Linked DNA regions of Homo sapiens: region 2 is linked to region 1. The links come from fine-mapping of genetic effects on gene expression. A gene starts in region 1. The other region holds a variant in brackets. All regions are shown on one strand. Distances are from middle to middle.

Region 1 (8,340 bases):
GAAACTAAACACAGCACCTATGTGGCCAACTGGACAGAGTTTTGGAATTGGAGTGTCCTACACATTCCAGAATGTATGTTCGTTGTAAATAATGTTTTTCTGGCATGGGTGAAGGACCTTGATTAATTACATGCTTGTTATTTATCAAAGATCTCTTCAAGCTCGGGAAGTGATCAATCCTTACAATTGTTGCGTTCATCACTTAAGAGTTGGAAAAAGCCTGTCTTCAAGTACAAACTTTTTATGTCCTAAACCAGAGACAGTAAACTGGCAACTGGCAATAAGTATTTTGTTTGGCCTACACAGTGTTTCGAAAATAGGGGGAAAAATGTACTTGCCAATATTTAAAGAGCAGATTTCTTATAAACATTTCTGGATGTTATGGTTTGAATGTCCCCTCCAAAACTCATTTTGAAATTTAATTGCCACTCTAACAGTATTGAGAAGCCGGACCTTTAAGAGGTGATTAGGTTATGAGGGCTCTGCCCTCATGAATAGATAATTGTTATTGTGGGAGTGGGTTAGTTATCCTGGGTGTGAGCTCTTGACAAATAGGATGAATTCAACCTGATTTGTTCTCTCTGTCTCTAGAGCTCACTTCTGCCTTCTACCCTTCTGTCATGGTATGGATGACCCTCACCAGATGCTGATGCCACACTCTTGGACTTCTCAGCTGCAGAAGCATTAGCCAAATAGTCTTCTGTTCATTGTAAACTACCCAGTCTGTGGTATTCTGTTATAGCAGCAGAGAATGGACTTAAACACTGGATTTCCGGTTTGCTTGAAAAATGAGAAGATTTGCATTTCCTCATGACAACAGTTGACTGTTGCTGAAGATCTGCTGCTTCCTTTAGTCAGGCCAGGAGTACTTCTGTCAGCTACATAGCCACCAGACCCACTTAATGGGCTGAGTCTATAAACCCTGTGCTGCAGTGAAGTAGGGAAACAATAAGAGCTAGTGTTTGCTCAGCACCGCTATGTAGCAGGTGCTTCCTAGACATTTATTCAACAAATATTTATTGAGGGCCTACTAGGTGCCAGACACTGCTCTAGCTACTTGGAATATACCAGGGAATAAAACAAACGACCCATGTAAAACTTACATATTAGTGGTGGATGAAGGACAGAATCAAATAATCATTATGATAAATAAGTAAATTACATGGTATATTAGAAGGCGATATGTTCTTTTTTATTTTATTATTATTATACTTTAAGTTTTAGGGTACATGTGCACAATGTGCAGGTTAGTTACATATGTATACATGTGCCATGCTGGTGTGCTGCACCCATTAACTCGTCATTTAGCATTAGGTATATCTCCTAAAGCTATCCCTCCCCCCTCCCCCCACCCCACAACAGTCCCCAGAGTGTGATGTTCCCAGAAGGTGATATGTTCTAAAGGGAAATTGCAAGTCCTGGGAGAAGGTAATTTGTTATTTTAAATGAGGTGGTCAGGGTAGGGCTCCCTGAGAAGATATTTGAGTGGACTCGGGAGGAGAGGGAGTTAGCCACATGGACTTATTGGGGAAGAGTGTTTCAGGCAGACAGAAAAGCTAAAGAAAAGGTCCAAAAGCAGGAGTGTGTCACTGGTGTTTGAGGAAGGCAAAGAAGCAAGTGTGACTGGAGCAGAGTAAAAAAGGGGAGAGTGGAAGGAGGAGTGCTCAGATGGTAAGAGACTGTGTCAGAATATGGAAGAGCTTGAGAACTGATATGGTTTGGATATTTGTCCCTGCTCAAATCTCATGTTGTGTTGTAATCCTCAATGCTGGAGGTGGGGCCTGGTGGGACATGCTTGGGTCATGGGGGTGGATCCCTCATGGCTTGGTGCTTGTTTAGTGATAGTGAGTTCTCATCAGATTTGGCTGTTTAAAAATGTGTGGCACCTCTCTCTCTCTCTGTCTCTTTTCTTTTGCTCTCTCTCTTGCTCCTGCTTTCAACATGTGACATGCCTGTTCCCCCTTCACCTTCTATGATTGAAAGCTCCCTGAGACTTCACCAAAAGCAAGCAGATGCCAACATAATGCTTCCTGTAAAGCCAGCAGAATCATGAGCCAATTAAACCTCTTTTCTTTGTAAATTACCCAGTCTCAGGTATTTCTTTATAGCCATGCAAGAACAGCCTAAGGGAAGGCCCTAGAAAGGACTCTGGGTTTTACTCGAAGTGAAATAGGGAGCCATTAAAGGGTTTTGAGCCAAAGAGTGATCTGATCTAACCTAGATCTTAAAATAATCACACAGCTGCTCTGCTGATACCAGACTGTAGGGGGAAGAAGGACAATAAGGGAAGCAGGAAGATGTGTTTGCAGGCTTTTTGCAGTGATCAAGAAGCGGCTTGGACCAGAATGGTAGCAGGGGAGGTGTGTTAACTGGTGAAAGTTAGGATGTCTTTAAAGGTAGAGTCAATCTCCAGATGGATTAGATGTGAGGTGTGGAACAAAGAGGCCAAACCAAAAACCCAAAGGTTTCTGCTTGAGTAACTGCAAGGACAGACTTACTATTTGAGATGAATAAGCTGTAGGAAGAGTAGATTTCAAGGGGAAAATCATCAGTAGCTCTGTTTTGGACAAGTTGACCTTGAGATGTATACTGGATATCTGAAGGAAACATTGAAAAAACTGTTGGATACAAGTTTGGAGTTCCAGGGACTTGTCTGGTTGGCAATAAATCTTTCCTCTTCTGATCTAGTCTCATAGCTTTAAACAGAATATAATGCCACATAATGCCAATGACTCCCAAATATTTATGGTTATGGTCGATTCCAGGCAGATTGTGGTGATGTGGCCATATTGCCAGCAAAGGGAGGTCAGGGTTTCTAGCGCTGCCTCTTTATCTCCGATTATGGAACAGGCATGGTTTTAGTTCCAGTGCTTGGGTCTCCCTGGATTTAGACATCATTCCTTTGAATTCCCACCCAATATAATGAGGGTCAATATCTTCGCTAGCTTTACTAAGTCTTAATTATCTGGTGAGGTGTAGACACAAATTTGAATCAAGGTCTGAAGTCCTTACCTGGGGCTCTTTCTTCCATGCCATCATGCCAGTCTTTGTGAAGACATTTTTCAAAGGCTCATTCTTCTTACCTCTTTTCTAGGAATTTTAGTTTATTTCTTTACTTAACTTCAGAAATTAATTTCTCACTTCATTTTAGTAGCAGGAATGTTAGTGCTGAGAAACTGAGATGTTAGGGAGAATCCTTGACCAAGACTTCCAGGCTCTAGATACTAGGTGTGTCTTGCTCTAATTAAGGAAATCTTATCTGCTCCATCTTAGCCCAGTTTAACGTCCCCAGGAATTCCATCTTCTGCAGTCCTAAACTTTTCCCTTTTTCAATTCAGTGCAACTTATACTCTTCTCTGAAAGTGGCTCCAGGTCTGAAGAACTGTGGTCTGGGAGGAATAGAAAAGCATGCTCAGCTATAACCAGGCCCACATCCCCTAAGTTGCCTGCCCACCAAGTTACGGGCCGGACTTATGCGCCACGCTTTGTCCGGGGACCTCGCGCTGTCCTCCCTCCGGTTCCCACAGAGCAGGGGGCTTCCGGCGGGGTACCCTCCTCTGTGGGCGGGGCCTACCGCTCCCGCTCCCGCCTCCCCGGTTGCGCGCGGCTGCGGGCTGCGATCACGTGAGCACAGCAGGGAGGGGGAGGGGCCCTGATTTCCGGGCGGCGGAAGGAGACGCGGCCGCGTGAGGACGAGGCTATTTGAAAACACGCTCCGGGAGCTAGAGCCTGAGGTCGGCGGCGCACGCTGTTGCCCCGTGGGCTTCTGCTCCCTCGCTTGTCTTCTCGGGCTTCTCGCCCCGGCCGCGGCCGGGTCCTCAGGTAAGCGGCCGTCGCCCGTCGGGCCGGGTCCTCCCGGGGCGCGGGACTGAGCGTGGTGGGGCCGTCGCCCCCCGATCCGCGGCCCAAGCGGGCAGGGTCGGCCGTGCACGATTTGCGTCCCCCGGGTCTGGGCCGCGGCGTCCCTCCGAGCTGGGCCTGGGTGTGCGGCCGGCACTGCGGGGGCGGGACCCCCTAGGGCGTTTGCGGAGCTTCAGGTGACTGGGCGGGTTCGCCTGGTTTCGGGTCCGAGAGAGTTTTAGCCCGGAGTGTGTGAATCGGGCCCCACTTCCCCGACTCTGGTCCTGGCCGGCGTCCCTTGGAGTAGGAGGAACGATGGTTTCCTAAAACCCATGGTGTGTTCGCCTCTGGGATGGATGCAGGACCGAATACGGAGTGGGGATGAGCTGGCGTCCCCTGTTCCGTCCTCTGGTCGCCCAGGCGGGAGAGTTAAGCGAGCGGAAGGGGACTACCAGTTTTCTGGGGTCGCCCCTGCCTGGGCCATTTGCTTTTTGGGAAGTCTGTCGCCTCTGGTTGGCCCCTCAGTGGAGTTTGGAGGAACTCATGAGTTTAAGGGTTTGGGGAGGAAATTATCAAAGGCCGAGTGCAGTACGATCGTTCTCTCTGATTTTTTTTGGAAAAGAAGGTGGAAATGAGGAAGGGTAAGAAGGTGGCAGGCAAACTATTTATAGTTGGAATTTAGTTCGATTGAAATCCTAAAAACGCTAGGATCTGCCTTTTGTTGGAATTAGAAAAGACCTACAGTAGGAATGTGTGACATTCAGCTTTGAAACTATTGGGGATCGCAAACCTAAGGACTAGTGATGTGAGCTCCTCCTCTGAGACTGGCGTTCCTACCTTTTGCTAAAAACCGGCTACTGTAAAAGTGGCTTAGTGGGACTTTTTGATTTGCTGTGTTATGAAAATCTTTGTTATAAGTTAAAGTCAATTACTAGTAGAACTTTGAGAGTTCTTCGCATGAAAATGCTTTGTATCCCGTAATAATATTACTAGGTTTGAAAAGTCAAGGAAGGTCAATCAGCCTTCTTAATTTTCCTAACAGAGAAAGCATTAATGTGACTAATACAAAGCGATAGATAATATGGCATGAAGTTGACAGTAGACTGTTGAAGATCTATCAGGTGGTTAATGGCTAAATAGAACCCACAGGAGTGGAGGAGGAAGGGAGTTAATTTTTCTGAATGTCCTGTACCATTTACTTTCGTGTCTAGTACCAGCTAGTAATAAAATTGTAGGAAAAGCTCACAAAGTGTGCTTGCTTAATTAATGAAAACCATTTTTGTATTAAAAGAGGCCAGGTGAGTATCATGGCCTTCTTTTTAGGCCTTATTCCCTCCCACCCACCCACCCACCGACCCCCAGCTTTTTTTTTTGTTTTGTTTTGTTTTTTAAGACTAAGGTAACTAGAGGTGTGGGTGAGATGAAAATTTGGTAATAGGGACAAATGAAATAAGCCAAACTGTTTTGCCACGAAGACTTCCAGTCTTCAGGTTAATTCTGGTATGTTAAAGGTGGTTTTGCAGAGCTCAGTTCTGTGAATGAATCCCTTTTCAACTTCTTGATAAAGGCGTGACTTCCAAACTTTTCTGAGGTACATTGTTAAAATGGGTTTAGTTCCACCTACCTTGCATGGTTCTGTGCAGATTGTATACTGAGGTACACAATGCATCTAGTACCGGGCTTGGTATGTCCTGATCCTGAGACTTGAGGGACACGCACATGTTTATGCTTTGAGCATACGTATTTAACCATGTACCAGGCACAGTTCTGAGTGTTTTACAATTGTGTATGATTATCCCTATTTTGTAGATAGAAATTGGGACAGTGTACAGCTGGAAGGCGTCAGAGTTTGGATAAAAGCCTAATCAATCTGGTTGTAGAATTGGTTCTTAACCTGTGGGAAATCCTACCTCATGGCGATCTAATATAACCCTGTAATTAAGTAAATTTGGATATATTGTCATAGCTGATTGGCTTCTGAATTCCTTGAACTTGAGCTGTTCAGTATTGCACTGGCCATTTTATTAATATTGTAATAAAGGAAACTTTCGTTTTACCCATTTTTTTATACCCTCATGTGTAGCATTGTCACTTTTTATGGCCAGGCACAGGATAATTATGATAAACCAGGAGATTAGCAGAAGTTTTATATATTCCAGAGGTACTTACCCTATTCAAGTGGTGTACAGTATTGTTCTCAGGTGTGGAAAAGGCTTCAAGAAGAATTTAGCTGGTTCCAGGTAGAAGAGGCTATTGTTTTAGATAGAGATTAGCTTGTGGGAAGATAAAGCTGGAGAGGATGGATGGGGCCACATTAGGAAGGACCTCATATGTCCTGCTAAGGAGGTTTTACTATGTATGAGGAATAGAACAGCTGAGAACTCTTGAGTCTTGGTCATGAGATCTGTGTTCAGAGAGAGCTGTTTCGTAAAGGGCCAGTGGACTAGAGAGGAGACACTAGATAGTAGGCAGGAGTACCAGTGGGGAAGGTATTGAATGGTAGAAATAAAGGACTTCTTGAAAGTAGTGGCCTGGAAATGGGTAAGAGACACAGATCAAAGATTTCATGTGTAAGTGCAAGGTTTGGAATGTGGTATAGAGGGGGAGGAAGTACAAGATGGCATGGTGTTATGCCTGAGTTATTTATTATAATAGTGGCTTAGCTGGTCTTTGTTCCTTATCCCCCTATTACATTATATTTCTTTTTATGCTGCTTTTTATCCTTTTTGGGGACCAAGGGGGAATACTGTTTTCTGTTTAGTCTGAGGTTTATTCACTTTTGCTGTGCTAGGTTTATCCCCTACACCTGATCTTTACCTTGTTTTCCTTGCTCTTGAAAGGCCTATTATTCTCCTTGCTGTGTATTTGAATATTACCCATTTTTCACATGCTCAGCTTAGGTTCATAAATCTTTTTCTAATGGTTATAGGCTGCATTAAAGAATAACATTGGTTTTCCAACTTTGTTTGGTATTGCTAGAGAAGTTCCTCCGAGGCTCTTACGAAGCCCAGGAGCACACCAGCAGATACAAGTTACATCTCTAGGAAGTCTGTGCTGCTCTCCTACACTCGAACAAAGGAAAACAAAAAAAAAACACATTTCAGAAGGTTTCCCTTTAGCATATAGCTTGACAAAAGGTTCTGTGACCCAAAAAACTTTGCAAAACCGTGGCAAGACTGTTGCCTTGTTACAGTATTTTATCACTAAACTGAGTTTTTAATAGTTCTTAACAGCATTTTTTAATATTTTGATCTTTCAGCATAATCAGATTCTTGATTACGATTGAAATAAATGTTACAGTAGTATGTGTTGGAAAGTGCCTTTTTTCATAATTTATTCTTGTCTCTATCCATTGCTTTTAATTAATTCTTTTCATTATAGTAGTCGAGAATGACTAAAAAAAGAAAACGCCAACATGATTTTCAAAAAGTAAAATTGAAAGTTGGTAAAAAGAAGCCCAAGTTACAAAATGCTACTCCTACAAACTTTAAAACAAAGACTATACATCTGCCTGAGCAACTCAAAGAGGATGGAACACTTCCAACAAACAATAGAAAACTTAACATAAAGGTAAATCATAAATCATGTTTTGACAAAATAAGATTTTCTTTGGAATCGTGTAGAATGTTATATTTTTGTGAAAATTTGTCTAAACTCTTAGAGTAAATAGTTTGCCTAGGGTCTTAGGGTTTATTGATGTTTGGAGTTTATCTTTTACCCAAAGATCTCTCATGCAGCTGTGTCTTTCCACTTCCTCCAGAAACGTTCGCTAAACTAAATGCACAGTTGTTTCTCCCTGGTATATTTATTTGATGATTTATTTATTTATTTATTTATTTATTTTGAGACAGGTCTCACTCTTACACCATGTTGAGCACAATGGGGTGCTATCATGGCTCACTGCAGCCAGGACCTTCTGGGCTCAAGTGATCCTCCTACTTCAGCCTCCCAAGTAGCTGGGGCTGCAGGCGAGCGTCACCATGCCTGGCTAATTTATTTTTTTGTGGAGGCAAGGTTGCAATATGTTGCCCAGGCTGGTCTCAAACTCTTGGATGCAAGCAATCCTCCAGCCAAGGCCTCCTGAGGTGCTGGGATTGTAGGCGTGAACCACGGCACCTGGCTGTATCTGGAAATAATTCTTACATGTTTTTGATGTGTCAAATTTTTGATGAACAGTTTTCTAGCTGTTTTTTAGCGAATTAAGATACAATCCTGTCATTCATTTTTGAACCCATACAGCACATAGTTTATTATAGGTTTGTAGTAAATACTTGAAGTCAATTGAAGTTTGAGAAGTGTTGCTTAAGAATCTAACAGCTTTATGGAGATATAATTTACACATAATTAAAATCTCTCATTTAAAGAATACAATTCATTGGTTTTGGTATATTTACAGAGTTATGCTACTATCACCTTAATCTAATTTTAGAACGTTTTTATCACTCCAAGAAGAAAACTTATACCCATTAGGAATCACTTCTCATTTCTTCCAGCCCTAGG
Region 2 (8,340 bases), 57 kb after region 1:
TGGAATGGAACTTTAAAGGGAGTTCTTTTCTTTTATTGTTAAAGAGATAGGCCCAGGTGTGTGTGTGTGTGTGTGTGTGTGTGTGTGTGTGTGTGTGTGTGTCAATAAAAGGCTCTGCTGAGATTCTTGGTGGGTGGTTTGCAAGGCTGTGTGTGTGTGTGTGTGTGTGTGTGTGTGTGTGTTGTGTGTCAATAAAAGGCTCTGCTGAGATTCTTGGTGGGTGGTTTGCAAGGCTGGGTGTAGAAGACTGACATGAGCAGGGATTGATTTGCTGCCTCCCAAATACATGTGGAGAAACAGCCCAAGGAGGCTGGCATTTTGCTATATCCACCTTTCTGCTTCTTCCTTTTTAAGTGGTAAAGGCACTACTAAAACCTCGGGGGTGGGGGGTTCTCCAAGTTGGAGGGTGAGAGCAATAATATTCATTAACTGGTTAATGCTTAATGTGGGTGGGCTTGAGCCTAACAAAACTGTGTGTTCTCCTAAATTTGGGGTTAGGAAAAGATCATTTTATCCTTGTCTGATTTTAAACCAGTCAAAAATATGTGTAGGACAAGTAAGTTGCTTGTTCATATGAAGTCCTAAGAAATCATTAAGTATTGATTTGAATTTATTTACTCTGTCCCTTCTGAGTCTCTTAACTAAAAAACTTATATGCTGCTAAACACCATTTTAAAAGATTTCTGGTAGTCTTGGATTTGTTTTTCTCTTAAGACTGAAAAATGATCCAGTTATCTAATTTATGCTAGTATTTGATTGTCTAAATGCCACTTCTCTGGTAGTGATATCTGACAATTCTGTTTTTGAAATGATTCTTTAATTTGCTCAGGTATAATGAAAGGGGTTTTTTTGTTTGTTTGTTTTTAAACAGACTGTAGGCCTTGATTGCTTTGAAAGTTTCTAACTACCCCACCCACCACTCCCTGATCAGCCTGTCTGTATTACATGAGTTGTCCAACACTTATTAAAGATTTGGCAGTAATTACTCTGTCCCCCACCTCCAGGTTTTTGCCCCCCATCAAAAAACTAAATGAATATTAAAGTTCATGCTGACAGTCATTGTTCACCTTCCCAGCTGCACTCTGTTCCTCCAGGATGACTGTGTGGATCGAGGAGGCAGGGGGGAGCGTGTTGCCATAGCCACCTATGAGAAACACTGGACCTGGCATTAGCTGCTGACAGCAATGAACTTATCACCCATATTTAATGCTGGTGTGAATGAGGGGGCCCTAAGTAAAACACTCTTGTCTTGGTGGCTGAAAAGAAAGTTCCCTGAGCTTCTCCTGTATGAGGGAAAGCACGCACAGCTGAGCCTGGGCTGTACATGCTCTCAGTGTTCTCTTCATGGTGTTCTTCCCATCTTGGAGAAGGAAATAGGGGATCATAGTGTGACACCAAAATGGAACAAGGATTCCCAAGGTATTCCTTTGAAGAGTGACAGTATTTTCATTTATTTCCTTTGTGTGAAAAAATGTGTAAAAGTGATCAATAATAGCTACCATTTATTTCTGTTGGAGTTAATGTTAACAATAATAGCTTTTAGTTGTGAAAATAATTTGCCTCTTAGGGAGACAGATGTTGGCTACAGTAATAATCCCATGAAATCAAATGACCATTGGAAAACCCTGGCCATATCTGTTCTAATGTCTTCTGTCTTTGGGGATGAAACAAAGGAAAATGCTTCCCCATGTTCTTCCCCACCATCTGCTTTGCAGTGGCTGCCTTACCTGAGTTGAGACGCAGCACAGAAGAGGCTTTTACAGATCTTGTAGGATGATGTATTTTCCCTTCGTGAGAACAACCTGAAATGAACCAACAACTGTTACTTTTCTTTGGCCAGGGATACGTTTGGCCTGACCAACTTCTGAATTCCTTATTGTGGTAAAGGCTTGAGCTTGCAGGTGTGTGTCAAGATAAGTTAGGTATGGTGTGGAAACATGTAGGCCCAGGGTAAAGTCCTGAGATTTTGCTAAATGAATGTTAAAGTTCATGCTGTAGGAGATCTTTCTAAAGGTGCTCTTGCTTATCTTTTTTTCTCTTGAGCCAGCAAGGCTTCTTGAACTCTACTGGGTCTATTTGGATGGGCTCTTTGCAGAGCTGAAAATGTTTCAATTTACAGCAGTTAATCTGCTGAACAAATATTTACTATAGTGCATGGGTGTTGAGCATTCTCATAGTGGGCAACCCTATAACATCTCAGCATAGGAAAAGTCAAAGTGATACAGGCAGAGTCTAGCTAAGTCGTGAATGCTCCAAATGGGTAATGCAAGGAGGAGACTCAAGCAGGGGTCTGGAGAGGTTTAAACAGTAAAGCTTGAGGGCACTCTGGGCTGAGATGCTAGAATGCCTCACGAAACCAAACAATTATGACCCAGTATCGCTGGGAGGCAGGAATGAAATGGTGCTTGAGAAATATTAGGTTGGTGCAAAATTAATTGCAGTTTTGACCATTTTTAATAATACAATTAATTTTGCACCAACCTAATTTATCTGAATGGAAGTTTACCCAATGTAATTAAATTCTACTTCAGATTCTGATGTGGTACTCTGGGGGTACTTGTGAACTACAAAGTAGGCAGAAGGACAGTTACCATAGATTTGCTTAAGCACTGAGTGCTTGGTGGACTTTGTGCCTGAGGTGCCCTTGGATGGACTCTTGGGGGCCTTGCTTACTGCAGTGGTTTGGGGGAATTTTAGTTCCAGTTCCTTCCTCCAAACCTGGAGGAGCAATGCTGTAGACTCTTGCCTCCATCTGTCCACATCTCCAGCTCCAAGCTGCTTCATATGCCGAAGGTGGGACAGGTGCTTCCTGAGCTGGTAGCTGGTTGGGTCAGAGGAGAGGAGAGGCTTTAAGATCACAGTACTGAGAAAACTAAATTTCCTTAAGGTTTCTAGAAGCTATAGGAGTAGTATTTGCTGAATTCCTGGTAGGTTCATTCAAGCTCCCATTCCTAATTTTGGCGGCAGCATGTTGAATGTGGAATTCTTTTTCCATTATCAAACACCTCCTGAACTAGGATTCAATCATGATTCCTTGCCTTCAAGGAGCTCACAGACTAGTGGAACAGGCTGCTGTGTAAAGAGGTACGTGTGGCATGAGAGTACTGTGCAAGAGCAAGGAGCTGGTTGTGCAAACAGATGCAGGACTGACTGATGGTTTGGTAAGGTTTCACAAGGTTAATATTTGTGCTGGATTTTAAAAGATGAATAGGAGCTTACCAGGCAGAGAAGGGCATTCTACGTAGCAGAACTGGCATCAGCAGAGATAGATAGAGGCATTTGTGCCAGAAAGTCAGTAACACAATGTGGAAGCACTGTGTCTTTGGTGACGAAAGGGGGCTTTAGAGTGGTAAAGGTATGAGCTGCATCTTACTAAGATAAGTCTGTTGGAGGTGGGTTTAGAGTGGGTGAGGAATGGGGATGATGGCTATATTTACATCTAGGATTTATTTGATGTTTTCAGTCCCACATGCACTCCCAAACTTACTGAGCACAACAACTATTTTGAGGCCTCCAAAGGAAAGCTGCAGCAATGTTTATTATCTGTATCTGTCTTTATTCCTAGTGAGCCTATAGGTAGCTGCAGAGAGCAACAGGCTTCATGTCTGATTTTACAGTGATCCCATTTGGGCTGCACCAAATGGGAAGTAATCTTTTTCCTAAGTCTGCTAAAAGCTCCTTGCAGCGCTTGGTGCAGCCCCTCCCTCCTTCCCCAAAGGCTGATTTCAGTCAGCCTACACTACTCTTCCTTCTGTCCTGGAGGGTAACACCATGGCATCCCTCTACTAGAATACGTACCACATTTCCAAAAAGCCAAGTCTAGAGAAAAGTATGGCACTACCGCGCTATAATTCAGTTTCTCCTGTTTGAAATGCTGTCTTCCATACCTTCTGCTCTTGTGGGCACAGAACTTGGGGGGAAGCCCAGGTAGTGGCTGAAGCTGTTAATGGTGTCAGCCCTCAGTGGGCCCAGCAGCACCTTTCCTGCTCAGCTTGTCCAGGATCCTGTTTCAATCTTTAAAATAGTCATCTTACTTGGTTATTAAACTGACAATTTTAAGATCAAGTTTCATTTTCTCAGGACCCAAGGTTCATTTTGCCCACTTCTTCCCTGCCTGTTTTCCAGCTCCTTTTCTCCATCCTCCACCTGTCCCCTATAACCACAGCCTGCACTGAACACTTAGTGTCCAGCCCTGACCCCTGCCCCAGCCCTCACTGCTTAGGTTTGCTATCAGATACACTTGCAGGACAGCGCTTCAGGCTCCTGTATTTACAATAGAAAATGTAGTTAAAATATAA[T/C]AGAATCAATAAAAGTGTGTTTACTGTCACCAGACTTGGCTTTCTGCAATGTGCAACAATCCCAGAAGTCCTTTGGGCCTCAGAATTGCACAATGGCACATCCAGAGGGGGCCTGTGTAGTTACCTACGCAGGTGGGCATGTTAGACCATAAGCCCACTGTTCTTGGGGGAATGACTGAAGGCTCATTTGCTACTCTGGTCACTTACTGACAGGACCTGTCAGCTTCTGACTCTTCAAAGGAGTCAGACAGTCGGAGAAGGAGACATTTCAGGTAGGGAGCAGCTGTGGGGTCTGGCGTGGTAAACCTTGCTGGCTTGTTTAGATCCTAGATTTTAGCCAGAATACTTAAAAAGTTCATCTGGATGGTAGCCAGTGCATGTCCCACAGAGTGCAATGGCCATTTCCACCTGTGGCTTTCGAGGCCGACTGTCTTGGCTCAAAGCCAGCCCTGGCACTTGCTCTGTAATGTTGGTGAGTTGATGAACCTCTCTGTGCTTCAGTTTCCTCATCTGTGTAACGGGGATAAGAACAATACCTACCTTGCAGGGTTATCAGTGACGATTACATGCACAGGTAAAACTAGTTTGAACAGTGGCACAAGTGTCCAATAAATAATACTAGTATGTTAACAATTGGTAGTAGTAACATCACCCTTCTCCTGGTTACCCTGATGTGTGTGACACCAACCAGGCAGCCTTCTCCAGCCTATTTTCAGGCAAAGTGCATGGGGCCCACCTCCACCTCCCTTAGCTTGACCACAGCAAAAACTAACTTCACTAATAATGTAAGGGAAAGGCCCTTGGATTTGAGTCAGCCAGAGGTTCAAGTGCTGGATCTGCACCAAAAGGACAAGTCAGTTTTTCCTCTCGTCTGAAAAATGGGGATACTGCTCCCTGTCATGATGGCTTCCTGGTGTGGTTGGGAGTTCACATGGGGTCAGGCATGAGAGGACTTTGTTAATGGCCAAGAGCTGAAACAGACATAGGGAGAACACATTGCAAAGCCTGTGCAAGCACAAACCAGATCACCCGGCTCTGGGTTAGGCAGTCTCTGGTATGATATGAACGGAGGCCTCTCCCTGGACCTCCTGGGAATCTATCTAGTTTTCTCCCTGCCAATGTTAAGGAGAGAACGTCTTCCTTTTTCTCCTGACGGGAACCTCGATATCTCATACACCTGTGCCGCATTATTTCCTTGCCTTGTCTCCCTCCCCATCCGTCTTCCTCTCCCCAGTGATGGCGGCGACATAACTTCCACCTATTTCTTTTCTTGAGACAGGGTCTCACTCTGTCGCCCAGGCTGGAGTTCTGTGGCATGGTGATGGCTCACTGTGGCCTTGACCTCCTGGGCTCAAGCGATCCTCCTGCCTCAGCCTCACAAATAGCTAGGACTACAGGCATGTGCCACCATGCGTAGGTAATTGTTGTACTTTTTGTAGAGACGGAGTTTGGCCGTGTTTCCTGGGGTGGTCTCGTCTCATAACCCTGGGTTCAAGTGATCCTCCCTCCTCGGCCTCCCAAAGTGCTGGGGTTACAGGTGTAAGCCACTCTGCCCGGCCAACTCCCACCTATTGGTGATGGGTCCAGCTTCTCTCTGGACATTCATCACTGTAAGGCCTAATTTAGATTTAGGCTCTAGTGAGGCTTTCAGGATGAAAGAGATTATGAGACGTGAACATTTGTAGCAATAAGACCCCTCAAGTCCTCCCATAATCATCCCCTAGCGGCATTTGTCTCTACTATATTGGGAGTCTGTTTCAGGCTTTTAGGACAGCCTTCACCCCCACTCCCAGTGCCTACTATGTATTTTGAGCTTGGTAGATGCTCAGACAGGTTTACATAATACAGTTTAGTCACTCAATCTGTTATATCCAGACCCTGGTTTAGGTGTTTGGAGTATGACTAGTTCCTGGGTAGTAAAGACATAAGAATAAAAATAAAGTATCTCCTATGTGTAGTAATTTAGAATTAATGAAGCGTGCATTATCTCATTCCAGCAACCTGTCATATTAACAGGACATGTGCAACAATTATTAAATCCTGTTTTACAGATGAAGAAGCAGAGGGTCAGGGGGGCCATGTGATTTGCCCAAAGTCACATAACCTGTTAGAGCTTACCTGAACCTCACATTTCATGGTTACAAACCCAGGGCTTTTTCCTTTACCCCATGCTGTCCTGAGCACTTTCCCATCTTTCTAGGCAAAAACATCTTCCAAATGGTTTATACAATGTAAATTACTAGGATCTGGTGTGAATTTCATGGGTAGGCTCTATAAAATTGGCCTTACCATGCCACCACATGGAACTCACTGGGAAAACATCAAAGAGCACAGATGTCATGTTGAGAATATCAGTAACAAAGAACCACAGATGCGGCAGCACCCCATTTTCCTACCTTCGCCAGGCGCGCTGGATGACTGCTGCTGCCTTGTTCTTTTTGCGAAACAGCTCCTTCCTCCTTCGTTCTCTCTGAATTATCTGCAGTCGGAGCTCTACGGGGAGAAGGTCAATATTCACACTCTGCCCAGAGAGGGGACCAGGTGCTGGATCAGTCTCCTTAGATACCTGAAAGTCCTCGGACAGGGTAGATGTCTCCAGCCTCCTAGCTCCTGACCTCAACTCCTCTGTGCTCTGTGGCAAATGTGAATAGAGCCCTCCTGTGAGCTTGGCTTGTGTCACTTTGTTTCTTGGTGTACGATGGTGGGGAGGATTCTGCCCAGCATGGACCGCCTCCCCCCGGGCACTGCCAGGGCGGCTAGAACCAGCCGGAGAGCACCTTCCTCCTCTGAGCTCTTGAGTGCGCCTTTTCTGGGGGGCACATTTGGCCTTGGGTTCTGTGTCATGCCGCCTGCTGGGCTTCCAGTGGCTATCGTGCGGTGGAAGGCTTGCAGCTGCCCGCCTGGAGTCCTCTCCTTTCTCATCAGGCCCAGCCACCCTGATACAGGAGGGCTGCTTCACGAAGCCTTTCCCCTTTGCACACCGCTCATCGCCAGCTGTCTCACCTCTGGACTTCTCAACAGAGGGAACTCCTGGATGCCTGCTTCCATCACTGCCTTCATTGGGTCTGAAGTGGACACAAGCAGATTGGCCTTTAGAATGTTCTCTGGCTGTTTCTTGAGGAAACAAAGAAAAAATATTGTCCAAAACTTGCAGAGTAGGATAATTTTCCTAATATGTTCACATAAAATATTCAGACTTAGCCTATATCATCACCATAATAGTGGCAGTTACAGACTAGGAAAAAAACGGTTTAACTTCTATTTCCAGCAATATGGTAGGTTAGATAACCTGAAGCCCTTCTCGCCTTAACGAAAATATAGTGGATATCCTTTGGAAAGCACTGTCATGCCTTTAAGAAAATAAAGGAACTCTGGAGGCCAAAAACAAAGAGAAAATTGAAAATCAAAGCAATTAAGTATGTGAGCTGATCCAGTGACTGTCTAGGCAGGTAATGGTGGTGGAGTGGGCAACAGATGGTCTTATTAAATATCTGGCTGTGCTTTAACATCTACATAAGAACAGAAAATGAGTCCTTGCAGGAAGAAAGTTAACTGGAACCAAGACTCTACATGAAGCCAGCACTCTTGAAGGGATATACCTTTTGGAAATAATCCAGATTTTAAAATCTGCTCTCCAGCACTTAGAGATGACAAGGAAGTTTGTTTCAGCCCAGGTTCTGGATGGGGTAAGGAGTCTCCCATAAGAATTTAAAACCAAAGTCGTCTTCCTTACATGGGCTTGGTATTCATTTATTCTCAATCCATAGGAGATATTACTATAAAAACTGGTCTTAGGATGGAGATATCCCAGGATGCCTCACAGAAGCAAACACAATATTGCTTTAGTGTGACATGCCCTCAACTCAGGCTGCACAACGGAGTCCTCTGAAAATGACTTCACAATCCAAAATCACAAAATGCATGAGGAAACAATGTACCATAAGCAACAGTTAACACAATAGCAAGATCAGATCTCTCAAAACGTTAGCACACACACGTTGATTAAACACACAAAAGAAGTTTAAAATACGAGAAAAGGATA

What was found. PIP is the estimated chance that this variant, and not a neighbour inherited with it, causes the effect.
Region 2: its variant is the best candidate, but not a certain one, in a credible set for the expression of TEX10 in whole blood (INTERVAL, PIP 0.66).

Annotation. Positions count from the first base shown.
Region 1 is chr9:100,348,254-100,356,593 of GRCh38, reverse strand. It overlaps TEX10 (testis expressed 10), which reads left to right and starts at 3,652. Exons shown (of 15, transcript NM_017746.4): 1 at 3,652-3,822; 2 at 7,222-7,410. The coding sequence starts at 7,231. LOC105376177 (a long non-coding RNA gene) reads right to left here and starts at 3,544. Exons shown (of 4, transcript NR_188642.1): 1 at 3,013-3,544; 2 at 2,499-2,597. RefSeq lists enhancers at 3,325-3,959, 4,364-4,413 and a silencer at 3,474-4,023.
Region 2 is chr9:100,291,398-100,299,737 of GRCh38, reverse strand. INVS (inversin) reads right to left here. Exons shown (of 17, transcript NM_014425.5): 14 at 6,695-7,412; 15 at 2,592-2,821; 16 at 1,728-1,802. Among named protein-coding and RNA genes, the nearest start is that of TEX10, 57 kb to the left of the region's middle. The variant T/C (reference allele first, on the strand shown) is at 4,299.